Linked DNA regions of Homo sapiens: all the other regions are reported to be linked to region 3. Evidence: microRNA targets listed by miRTarBase, many of them from high-throughput screens and not tested one by one. Region 3 holds a microRNA gene; each other region holds the end of a gene's coding sequence.

Region 1 (3,168 bases), not on the chromosome of region 3:
TTCTGTCTCCTCTTCAAGCAGCTCCCAATTGCCATCTAAAAGTTATCAACCCAGTGTAATTTCTGCCCCTCCCTCGTTCACAGACACCCCACCGTCCACCAGGCTCTCTCGTTTTGCTCTCTATTGCCACCCCAGGGAATTCACCTCTTTACTTTTTTTAAAATCCCCTTCATTCTCTAAAGGGAAACCCTTAGTCCTGGCCATTTCAAAAGCATCACACAGAAGAAGACCTTGATATTTACATTTAAGTCACATATGCAGCTACTGACACTTACTAGTGCTGTTATAGTCCTGGCTATTATTCCATGAGGTCGTCACATTTTAACCTTTTGCATAAGCCTCCAACGGCCTGATGGAATGATGAAGCCTCAGAACAGTTTCTACACAATGGCTAAGGGATGTACCCATTTTGAATTTTCCTCTTTTCTGTGATCACAGAGGTGAATACGCTTTGGCCGAATACACAGAAGTGAAAACTGTCACCATCAAACTTGGCGACAAGAACCCCTGAAGGAAAGGCGGGGCTCCTTCCTCAAACATCGGACGGCGGAATGTGGCAGATGAAATGTGCTGGAGGAAAAAAATGACATTTCTGACCTTCCCGGGACACATTCTTCTGGAGGCTTTACATCTACTGGAGTTGAATGATTGCTGTTTTCCTCTCACTCTCCTGTTTATTCACCAGACTGGGGATGCCTATAGGTTGTCTGTGAAATCGCAGTCCTGCCTGGGGAGGGAGCTGTTGGCCATTTCTGTGTTTCCCTTTAAACCAGATCCTGGAGACAGTGAGATACTCAGGGCGTTGTTAACAGGGAGTGGTATTTGAAGTGTCCAGCAGTTGCTTGAAATGCTTTGCCGAATCTGACTCCAGTAAGAATGTGGGAAAACCCCCTGTGTGTTCTGCAAGCAGGGCTCTTGCACCAGCGGTCTCCTCAGGGTGGACCTGCTTACAGAGCAAGCCACGCCTCTTTCCGAGGTGAAGGTGGGACCATTCCTTGGGAAAGGATTCACAGTAAGGTTTTTTGGTTTTTGTTTTTTGTTTTCTTGTTTTTAAAAAAAGGATTTCACAGTGAGAAAGTTTTGGTTAGTGCATACCGTGGAAGGGCGCCAGGGTCTTTGTGGATTGCATGTTGACATTGACCGTGAGATTCGGCTTCAAACCAATACTGCCTTTGGAATATGACAGAATCAATAGCCCAGAGAGCTTAGTCAAAGACGATATCACGGTCTACCTTAACCAAGGCACTTTCTTAAGCAGAAAATATTGTTGAGGTTACCTTTGCTGCTAAAGATCCAATCTTCTAACGCCACAACAGCATAGCAAATCCTAGGATAATTCACCTCCTCATTTGACAAATCAGAGCTGTAATTCGCTTTAACAAATTACGCATTTCTATCACGTTCACTAACAGCTTATGATAAGTCTGTGTAGTCTTCCTTTTCTCCAGTTCTGTTACCCAATTTAGATTAGTAAAGCGTACACAACTGGAAAGACTGCTGTAATAACACAGCCTTGTTATTTTTAAGTCCTATTTTGATATTAATTTCTGATTAGTTAGTAAATAACACCTGGATTCTATGGAGGACCTCGGTCTTCATCCAAGTGGCCTGAGTATTTCACTGGCAGGTTGTGAATTTTTCTTTTCCTCTTTGGGGATCCAAATGATGATGTGCAATTTCATGTTTTAACTTGGGAAACTGAAAGTGTTCCCATATAGCTTCAAAAACAAAAACAAATGTGTTATCCGACGGATACTTTTATGGTTACTAACTAGTACTTTCCTAATTGGGAAAGTAGTGCTTAAGTTTGCAAATTAAGTTGGGGAGGGCAATAATAAAATGAGGGCCCGTAACAGAACCAGTGTGTGTATAACGAAAACCATGTATAAAATGGGCCTATCACCCTTGTCAGAGATATAAATTACCACATTTGCCTTCCCTTCATCAGCTAACACTTATCACTTATACTACCAATAACTTGTTAAATCAGGATTTGGCTTCATACACTGAATTTTCAGTATTTTATCTCAAGTAGATATAGACACTAACCTTGATAGTGATACGTTAGAGGGTTCCTATTCTTCCATTGTACGATAATGTCTTTAATATGAAATGCTACATTATTTATAATTGGTAGAGTTATTGTATCTTTTTATAGTTGTAAGTACACAGAGGTGGTATATTTAAACTTCTGTAATATACTGTATTTAGAAATGGAAATATATATAGTGTTAGGTTTCACTTCTTTTAAGGTTTACCCCTGTGGTGTGGTTTAAAAATCTATAGGCCTGGGAATTCCGATCCTAGCTGCAGATCGCATCCCACAATGCGAGAATGATAAAATAAAATTGGATATTTGAGAAACATTGTGCTTTTTCATTTAAAGACCAAAGTCATTTGAATTCGATGGCAGGCCTTTCTCTTTCTGAGACCTGTACGAAATGGCTGATATTAAAGCAGGATCAATAATGTAAGCATAAAATTACATTTGCTCAGTCAGTCGGGCCCAGTGCTTTGCCTGAGTGTGAAACCCATTTCTGTGGGCTTGGGGGTTGACCAGGCAAGGAGCTGGGCCTCAGAGGTTCCATGTCATAGCTGGCTGAGTTTCAGCTGTTATCTAAGCTGCCTGAGTCTCCTTTTATCATAAAGTAGTGATGGTGTCAGTGTGCGAAATGGTGGGGAGGACTGCATGAGGATTGACGGACAGCATTGTGCCCCTGACGGTGAGCACAAGTGTCTGTTTTTGTCACCTTTTCCTCTAGAGAAATCTAGAGGATCTAGAGAAAGGATCAATTTGGGTTTTACTGACCTCAAGTTTCTAAAGCTTCTAACCAAGAAGCCTCAATCACCCCGTTGTGAGCTGACGCTGCCATTGGCTCAAGATCATTGCTGGTACTGGGGTATGTCCTCCAAGCTCATCCCTTGCATTTGATGTGGAAAGCCCAGATCATTTTGACATGGGTGGCAAAGCACCACCACTTTAACAAAAAAGGGAGGCTGGGATCAGATCTCTCGTAACATATGCACTTATGTTAAGAGAATTTAGACACATTATTTAGAGACATCCCATTTCTCAATCCAAATGTGAGCAGGAAACTGTAGGAGAAGGATATTTTCCCTCATTTGGTGTCCCGGAACATGACTCCCTGAAGGGAGCCATTCTGGGGA
Region 2 (3,168 bases), not on the chromosome of region 3:
TGTATTTTTAGTAGAGACAGGGTTTCACCATGTTGGCCAGGCTGGTCTTGAACTCCTGACTTCAGGTAATTCACCCGCCTTGGCCTCCCAAAGTGCTAGGATTACAGGTGTGAGCTACCACGCCCATCTAGAACAAACTTCTTATGTTTTCAGTATTTTTTACAAAATTGAAGAAATCGGCTTTTTGATAACTTTTATTAGATAACATTTGTCTTCATCTAGGTTGACAAGTGCACTAAAATATCAGACTCCACCACTATACAATTCACCCACGTAACCAAAAACCACTTCTACCCCAAAAGCTACTGAAATGTTTAAAAATTAAAACATTTGGCTTCATCTAAATTAAATTAATGGAAAAAAGCCAAATCAGCTTTTTTTTAGTCTGTATTTTTAAAAATTAGCCTTACTGAAGATACTAAACTGAAAAAAAAAATTTATGCATCTTAAAACAGATTAATCAAACTTTATTGACTCTAAAAACATTCTTACATTGGTAACTTTTATTTTTCAGGGTGAAGATTATATAAAGATGAGTCAGTGATTGAAGCCAATATTCTGATTCCCATGGAAGATGGATGGGCAAGAGTGTACTTCTTGGCTCCATTTACTACCTACTGCTCAGTAGTCATCTCTGTAAATCTGCAATTTCTACCAAAATGTGTGATCGTAGATCTCAAAGGATCTTGCTTTAACTTTCAACACTTAGAAAATCTACAAACATTCAGACCTGTCTGGGTTGGTATTGCCACCCATGACATTTAACATGTTGTGATGCTTGAAAACACAGGAGTAGAGAAAATCGATGAAGATTGTATTTTTGCACCTTAACTCCACATTGCTTTATTGGTTAATTTATATTCTTTCCATGTAATTCATGTAATTGTATGTCTGTGTGTGTTTTATGTGTCACCACCTTTCATGTTTTTGATTGCCCTACAAAGAGAAACCAAATGAGCTGATTACTGACTATAAGTTCTCAGCCTTTATGGACCTAATCTTATTTTTATTTACTTGAGTAATGTTTATTCTCTGCATGAACCATGATTTCTCCTGTGAGCCATTCCAGCATAAGCTGTGAATATGTATTAACAAATATATACATTTCTATTTTTATAATCCATAAGGATATGCCTGTTTTAAATAACATACATATTAACAATATCTATCAGGAAAACCCTCAAGACAGCTTCTAGTTAAAACCTTTGTTGCTGTCCTCTCAAACTATATTTATAAAAATTTGCTAGGGCCAAATCCATACTTGCAGAATAATTCATCAAATTTTATTTTTAAGTGAAAAGTAACCTTTCAGGCATTTCAGCAGCATACATTGACAATCTAGGGTATATATGTATGTATGTTTCTTATTGTATGTCTATATATGTATGTGGGGAGGACAGGAGTGAATGTTCACACACTTTTCTTGCGTACTCAACTAAATTGGAGAATGTTTCTGAAGAAAATTGGATGAAATTAGCTGCTGAGATTGAGTTTCTGCCTTAAAATCTGAAACAAAAAAAGGGACAAATTGCTGGTAGATCTACTGACTGTAGCCATCACCAGAACACTTAGTTTCTTCCCAGACATGAATTTCCTGACAGGCTCTGAGCCAGAAACACACTGTGGGCGTGCATCTGGTTCAGCCCTGGATATGCCTCCACTGTGGAGGGAAGCATTGGAACTGGAGTTGTGCACAGCACCGCAGCTAGTGGGCCTGGCTGGGGGTGCAGAAGGGCAGGGTAGTTCTTTCCATTTCCCCTTGCAGCTACACTTACTTTCTCCCTGACTACCAAATGGAGTGACGGTTGAAGAATCAAGCTCATAATATGATACACCCAGACAGACCCAGAAATCTTTTGATTTCCCCAGCGAGATACTTACCACTCTCTCTTCTCTTTCCCATGGTTAAAACAGGAGTTGTGTTCTCTGTCGCTGCTAAATTATTCTTCACTTGAGTGAAGCAAATATTTAGCTTCCAAATAAAGTATATTTTGTTCTGAACTGGCAGTTTAAGAGGAGATACCGTAGTCTAGATTGTCTTTGAGGTAGAATATATGATGGACCACATAGTTTAAGATTACAAGGTACTTTCCCTCTTCTCTCAGGCCATGCATTTGAATAAAGTGCCTCCCTTAGCCTGAGCTCCTAAAGACCTCTTGTACTTGGTTGCAAACTCAGATCTCTAGTCTAGTCTAGTCTAGTCTAGTCTAGTCATGTGTGACTGTGTACTGAGATACCACTAGCCCAGTTTGCTGGGTCTCTATGTTTTGGAAGTTGGGGGTTTAATAATATTTAATGTCTTTTTAGGATCATAAACATAAATAGGTTTGTTGATATTCAGGCCTTCAGAATTTAAGGGTTTTAAATATAGCATTCAGATTGTAATTGGTATGTTTTTGCCATCTGGTCCACTCAATTGTATATTTTTATTTTGCAAAACAACCCAAAACTTACTTTATGTTGCTTTGTTCAGTACCTTTTGAATTCCCCCAGAAGAGTTGTTTTCAAAACAAACATTCCAGAATGAATGTCGCTCTTCAATGGAACGTCTTTATTGTGCTTGAAGTATTTCTTCTCTGGTTGTAATTCTAAATTACAGAGTCATTTGAGCTTTCTCCCCTCCCGCTAGTATCTTTACAGGAGCAGGGAAGAGCAGTAGAGGATGTATAATTTTGGGCGAAGTTAAATTACAATTTATTTGAGGTTATTCCTAAACCTATTTATTTGGTGTTTTGGAGGAGATCACACACTAAGAGAACGTTGATTGCCTCGGCTATTGTGCTGGCTGGACACTTTGGTCACTTTTGAAGCATGTTAATAAATGTCACTGATTAAAACAGCTGGAGCATTTCCTTCCCTTTCCAGTGAAGGAGCAGCATAGTGAAATCCTGGCACCCCTCACCTTTTTGTGATGACAAGATGGCTGACAGTCACGGAGTCCAGGAGAAGGTGCTGCTCTCCTTGCTTTCTGAGTAAACAGAGTAATGTTTTTTTTCTTATTTTCCCAAAGAAAGAAAAGGGGGAAAATATATTTGTATGTTTAGACCAGCCAAATTCTGTCATTATTTTAGTATCAACCTGCTGTATATTAGAGCAACTGAATATAATATGGAATAAGTTTGACCAGGTCAAGTTTTAGGATATAGTTGAATTTCTTTAAAAAGTTTT
Region 3 (3,168 bases):
ACATATTATTTCTAAAAATAACTGAAATAATTAAAAGCCTTCTGCTGGCAAATCTACAAGACAATGACAGTAAACACTGTCCAAGGTGAGGGGCAGCAGTGAGGGGTAACCACAGTCACTGTCTCTGCTGCCCTTCACCTTCACCTTTTTGACCTTCCAGTGGACACCGCTAGTAGCACTTCTCAAACTGGAATCCTCTGCATCTTTTCAGAACGTCCAGGACTGGCATTGCTGGTACCCACTCCTCCTCTTTCACTCTTGTCCTCCCTTAGAGGCAAACCTGCAAATCACCTCTCATGAATAATCCCCTCATCCATGATGTGAAGTACACCTACTCTTCCCAATGCCCACCACCTACTAATGGCCATCAGCACCTCCAAAAGCATCTACCCAGCCTCCTTCCACCTTGAGGCCACCTTGTCAGGAGAGTCCTTTGCCTAATGCAGACTCATCATACTCCTGTGACAGTTTTTCTTTCTTCTCAGTTTTAGGTTCTGATTTCATGTCTTTGTAGTGCTTGTTTCAAAGACAGGAAGTGAAGGAGGAGGGAAGATAGAAATGTCAGACTTTAGTCACTGTTTCTGAGTCTGTGATGTAACACTGTCCTCTGTCTGTCCAGGCTTAACAAATTCAACTGTTTTCTTTTTCCATTCTTTTTTTTTTTTTTTTTTGTACAGACAGGGTTGTACAATGTTACACTATGTTGACGAGGATGGTCTTGAACTCCTAGCCTCAAGCAATCATCCTGCCTTGGCCTCCCAAAGTGCTGGGATCGTAGGCATGAGCCACCACGCCCAGCCGTCTTTTTTTTCGGACAGGGTTTTGCTCTCTCAACCCAGGCTGGAGTACAGCAATATGATTACTGCTCACTGCAGCCTCAACCTCCTGGGCTCAAGTGATCTTCCTGCCTCAACCTCCTGAATAGCTGGAGCTACAGGTGCATGTCACCACACCTGGCTGACTTTTAAATTTTTTTGTAAAGATGGCGTTTCCCCATGTTGCCCAGGCTGGTCTTGAACTCCTGGGCTCAAGCAATCTTCCTGCCTCAGCTTCCCAAAATGCTGGGATTACAGGCCTGAGCCACTGCACCCAGCAAATTCAACTGTTCTCAAGTTCTGTGTCGTTGGAGTCTTACTGATTCACGAGCACTCATTGGCCTCTCTTCCTCACCTCTTCTCACCCCTCCTTACCAGAGAGATGGGAAAAACACTGTCTTAGCTGGGGAAGCATTTCTCAGCAGCATTCAGGGAGTTCAGTCCACTTCCTCCTTCATGCTTGACTTCCCTTCAATTCAGACCAGGCTATATTCATCAAATGACGTTCTGGACTCCATTTTTTGAACAGAATAACAAGGACACATCAAACAAATTTGCTGTGGGAAATGTGTCAACATGAAAACAATATAACAGGTGATTTGTCCAATGTGACGTACCCACCCTTCTCATCCAAGAAGTGAGGCAGTCCAACCTGCTTTAGACATATGTCAGAAACAGTTACAAAATGCTCAAGCTTGGCCTCTGTAAATTCATTCTATTGAGCTGACTGGCTTGTATGGAGGTTCTAGACCATGTTAGTGTTCAAGTCTACATGGATGGAAACCTTCAAGCAGGCCAAGCAGGAGACAGGTGGAAGAAGATGTGTGCATTTGAGGGCCTCGCTGTGGGGCTTGTGGTGGTGTTGAGTGGGTAATTAATGTCAGCATCAGAAAGGGAATTCTGCCTCTGGAGAAGAAGAACTAAAAGACTGAAAATAGGGCCACTATTTTCTGAGTTTCTGAGCTTTATTTCACTCTTATCTGAGCATCTGTTGACTCTTGAGAAAAGTTGATCACACATTTCTAATAGTGTATTAAAGTGTATTGGAAGCTTCTGCTCACCATTGCAATGGAAAAGGCATTAGTTAGATTAGCTTCTCCACCAGAGTGGGTGCAGCATTTCTAAGACTTACTGATCTAACTCTGCCCCAAATCTCTCATTCTTCTGTCCAGGAGCTACCCTGTGAACACAGACATGTGTTGTCCAATATGGTAGCCCATAGCTGCATGCAGTGCAGTTATTTAAATTTGTTTAAAATTAAATGAAATAATTCCTTGTTTGCACTACACACATGCCAAGGACTTTGTGGCACATGCGTATCAGTGGCTTTTGTATTAGACGGTGCAGACGCAGAGTGTTTCCATCATTACAGAAAGCTCTGTTGGATGGCACTGGCCTAGATGCTTGTTTTCAGCATCTGACTATGTGAAGTATGGGCTGTGTATCTCTCCACCCTCTGAGGTTAGAACTGTGAGCAGCAGAACCTAAATGGGTTTTGCATACCAATCCTCTTTCTGCTTTCCACATCTTCTTTGTCATCCAACTTTTTTTATCATCCAAATTTTATTACAACCTTTGTCTTCATGTTTCTCCATAAGGTATGATGCTACATTGCAAGGATCAAGTTGAAGTTTAGATTATGCTTAAATTAAAACTGCGACTGTTTTCCTATGTTTTATTTTACTCGTCACGATAAATGAAGCCAGCAGCTGCTCTTCTATGCAGCATTTGGACTCTGAGTTAAAACTTCAGTCACCCGGGATCGCTTGTTTTATATTGCTGTTTTGTTTTTTTTTTTAACATTGAGGAACTTAATGAAGAACATAATCATTGCCAGTGGCCAGTTTAAATATTGACTTGCAGATATTTTTTCAAACCTTAGAATTTGAAATTCAGAAACAAGTGAAACCTGAGTAAGAGACGTGATAGAAAACCAAAGAATGTCACGACCATGGTCAGTGTTTTCTGTGATAGATTTGTTACTGAAAAAATTGTGGTTAAGGAACATCTGGTAAGTCAATCAGGTTTTAAATGTATTGAGAAAGCATAAGAAAAGTTGCTAAATTATTTTTTAAAATGACTTAAACTACCTTCTAATTCATTTGGTAAAATTCAGAAGTTTATGTACTATGTTGTTATCCCTGCAAGGCTATACCTATGACCAATTCATTAAGTACAAAATTAAGGCAAGTTGTTTAGGGTCAAGTAGATGAAACTTTTGTTGGTTTTATATATATATATATTTGGAGATAGGGTCTTGCTTTATCACCCAGGCACAGTCATGGCTCACTGCAGCCTCGACCTCCTGGGCTCAGGTGATTCTCCTGCCTCAGCCTCCTGAATAGCTGGGACT
Region 4 (3,166 bases), not on the chromosome of region 3:
CTGGAGTGCAGTGGCGCCATCTCGGCTCACCGAAACCTCTGCCTCCCAGGTTCAAGTGATTCTCCTGCCTCAGTCTCCCAAGTAGCTGAGACTACAGGCACCTGCCACTATGCCTGGCTAATTTTTGTAGAGATGGAGTTTCACTGTGTTGGCCAGGCTGGTCTTGAGCTCCTGATCTTGTGATCCGCCCGCCTTGGCCTCCTGAAGTGCTGGGATTACAGGTGTGAGCCACTGTGCCCGACTGGTGGGAAGAATCTTCTATGGCTTAAAAAACAAACGTAGGCTGGGTGTGGTGGCTCAGGCCGGGTATGGTGGCTCATGCCTGTAATCATCCCAGCACTCTGGGAGGTTGAGGCGGGTGGATCACCTAAGGTCAGGAGTTCGAGACCAGCCTGACCAACATGGAGAAACCCCATCTCTACTAAAAACACAAAATTAGCCAGGTGTGGTGGCGCATGCCTTAATCCCAGCTACTCGGGAGGCTGAGGCAGGAGAATCGCTTGAACCTGGGAGGCAGAAGTTGTGGTGAGCCGAGATCACGCCATTGCACTCCAGCCTGGGCAACAGAGTGAAACTCCATCTCAAAAAACAACGACAACAACAACAACACAACAACAAACGCAGCAATTCCATTCCTAGGTGTACACCCAAAAAAATTGAAAACAGGTATTCAAACAAATATTTGTACACAAATGTTCACTGAAGCATTATTCACAATAGCCAAAAGAAGGAAACAACCCAAATCATCAACAGATACCGGATAAACAAAATATGATATCCATACAATGGAATATTATTTAGCCATAAAAAGGAATAAAGTACTGATACATGCTATAATGTTGGTTAAACTTGAAAATATGATGATGTCCCGGTGTGGTAGCTCACACCTATAATCCCAGCACTTTGGGAGGCCGAGGCAGTTGGATCACCTGAGGTCAGCTCAGGACCAGCTGGGCCAACATGGTGAAACCCTGTCTCTATACTAAAGGTACAAAAATTAGCTGGGCGTGGTGGTACACACTAGTAATCCCAGCTACTTGGGAAGCTGAGGCAGGAGAATCTCTTGAACCTGGGAGGCGGAGGTTGAGATTGCGCCATTGCACTCCAGCCTGGGCAATAAGAGTAAAACTCTGTCTCAAAAAAAAAAAAAAAAAGAAAAGAAAATATTATGCTAAGTGAAAGAAGCCAGATACATAAAAAGGTCACATATCATATGATTCCATTTATATGAAATATCCAGAATAGGTAAATCCACAGAGACAGGGTGCAGATTAGTGGCTATTGTTAGCAGTCGGAGGAGAAGGGAATGGGGACTAACTGCTTAATAGGTATAGGGCCTCCTTTGGGGGTGATAAGAATGTTCTGCAACTAGAGAGTAGTGATGGTTGCACACCACTGTAAATGTTCTGCCAACGAATGGTACACTTTAAAATGGTGAATTTTATGATATATGAATTTCACCTCTTTTAAGTTCCAAATAAGGCATCAGTGTAGCGGAGGTCCTCTAATCTGTCTGGTTGGCAAAGCACCTAGTAGTTTACAGTACAGAAGAAGCTTTAAAAATGCTTTTAATTTGTATAAAGTGCAAAGAAAAAGAATATTGAGAAGCACATGAAAGAATATAAAATGGCTAGAGCCTAAAAAATAAGCTAATATACACGCATAGGGACACATCTGCATATTTGAGCATACAGAGACATGTAAATACTCAGGAGAGAAATTTGCTTTTCCTCATAACTTATTTTGTGTTTCTCCAAAACCTGAAGAGTAGATAACAGCTGACAGTTACCCCCCTCTGAGTGTGACAAGAGGTCACGCACAGGGAGGGCCTCTAGCTGCCATTTCCTGTTGCTTCCCTGGTCAAACAACGCAGGCGGCTAAGTCACTTTAGGAAACGCTCAACAGGGCTCCCATTGTTCCAACCTCAAAATTCCGAGATACAACGGGCCCCATTAATACAGACAGCTTACAGGCTGGGGGATGGTCCCTTAGTGTGCAGTCCACTTTTTATTGGGACACTGAATTTTCAAAAACACTGACTTGCACAAATAGTGTTAATTATTTTTTTTAAATGGTACAGAAATAAAATTCAAAAGATACTAAACTGGGAGTCAGGACACCTGAGTCTTACCCTCAGCTCTCTGATGCGACTTTAAGCAAAGTCGCTTGCTCTTTCTGGACCTCAGTTTCCTTGTTTGTAAAAACAGAAATGATTTCTAAGATCACTCAGAATTGTAAAATTCTATGAACACTTATGAAGTCTATTGAGCTTGCGTCACTGTTCACTCCAATGAGTGGGGATAAGTTGTAAGCAGAAAAATATCATTACTTCACATCTTTTCGTTCACTATCAACACTTAAAAACAAACAGCCTTAATAAAAATCAAGTCCACTTTGTTTTCTCTCTTAAACAGACAAATCATAACGAACAGAGTCCAGTGAGTCCCTCTGTCGCAACAAGTTCAGGATCACTCAAGCAGGTAACCGCACACAACGCACAATGATGAAGAGCATAAACACAAGCCATAAGTATATTTTTATGTCGCTTTTTCTTAGGTTATTGATGCATTTCCAGAATCTCTTCATTTCTTTGCAATAACTGAAAACCCCAGAAGAAAGACACCATTTACATTAAGAATGTGATCAATGTTACAAGCTTCTGCACCATGTCATTTTTTTGTTTTTTCAACCTCAAAACTTGCCAGAGCAAGAATTTTGTCTCCAGAGCCTAAGAAAAAAGACACATAATAAACAAAAAGATTATTTCAAGTGCAGTTGCAATTCCTGGTAAAGTGGGAAAAAATCTATCATATAGATATTAAAACAGAAAATATAATTAGCCTCCATTATCAGTGTATTAACCCCTACACGTTCCCATTGCCATCCCAATTTCCTTCCCTCTGCACAAACAATCCAGCTACAAAGGGGGACTTATTAGTTATAAATCCTTATTCTAGCTATGAAATATAATATGTAAAATTTAATTTATTTATTTATTTATTTTTTTGAGATGGAGTTTCGCTCTTGTCGCCCAGGCTGGAGTGCAGTGGTGCGATCTCGGCTCACTGCAACTTCCACCTCCTGGGTTCAAGCAATTATCCTTGCCTCAGCCTCCCTAGTAGCTGGGATTACAGGCACGTGCCACCATGCCCAGCCAATTTTTGTG

What was found. The annotated mature microRNA hsa-miR-4802-3p reads UACAUGGAUGGAAACCUUCAAGC and lies in region 3 at 1,585-1,607, shown strand. An mRNA with a match to its seed (bases 2 to 7 or 8) in the 3' UTR can be bound and repressed. Matches are read on the target gene's strand: a 7mer-m8 pairs with bases 2 to 8, a 7mer-A1 pairs with bases 2 to 7 and ends in A, and an 8mer does both.
Region 1: the mRNA of ALDH1A3 is a reported target of hsa-miR-4802-3p. Seed matches in the 3' UTR shown: 7mer-A1 at 1,880-1,886.
Region 2: the mRNA of CREBL2 is a reported target of hsa-miR-4802-3p. Seed matches in the 3' UTR shown: 8mer at 866-873.
Region 4: the mRNA of LZIC is a reported target of hsa-miR-4802-3p. Seed matches in the 3' UTR shown: 7mer-m8 at 400-406.

The regions. Positions count from the first base shown.
Region 1 is chr15:100,914,263-100,917,430 of GRCh38, forward strand. ALDH1A3 (aldehyde dehydrogenase 1 family member A3) reads left to right here. Exons shown (of 13, transcript NM_000693.4): 13 at 439-2,364. The coding sequence ends at 511. All of the region lies in intron 1 of ALDH1A3-AS1 (ALDH1A3 antisense RNA 1), which reads right to left. Among named protein-coding and RNA genes, the nearest start is that of ALDH1A3-AS1, 3.4 kb to the right of the region's middle.
Region 2 is chr12:12,641,480-12,644,647 of GRCh38, forward strand. It overlaps CREBL2 (cAMP responsive element binding protein like 2), which reads left to right. Exons shown (of 4, transcript NM_001310.4): 4 at 515-3,168. The coding sequence ends at 519. Among named protein-coding and RNA genes, the nearest start is that of CREBL2, 31 kb to the left of the region's middle. RefSeq lists an enhancer at 1,833-3,032.
Region 3 is chr4:40,500,490-40,503,657 of GRCh38, reverse strand. MIR4802 (microRNA 4802) reads left to right here and starts at 1,539; the gene lies at 1,539-1,618. The region is part of intron 2 of RBM47 (RNA binding motif protein 47); the gene reads left to right.
Region 4 is chr1:9,927,730-9,930,895 of GRCh38, forward strand. It overlaps LZIC (leucine zipper and CTNNBIP1 domain containing), which reads right to left. Exons shown (of 8, transcript NM_032368.5): 8 at 1-2,728. The coding sequence ends at 2,670. Among named protein-coding and RNA genes, the nearest start is that of LZIC, 14 kb to the right of the region's middle. RefSeq lists enhancers at 85-594, 3,084-3,166.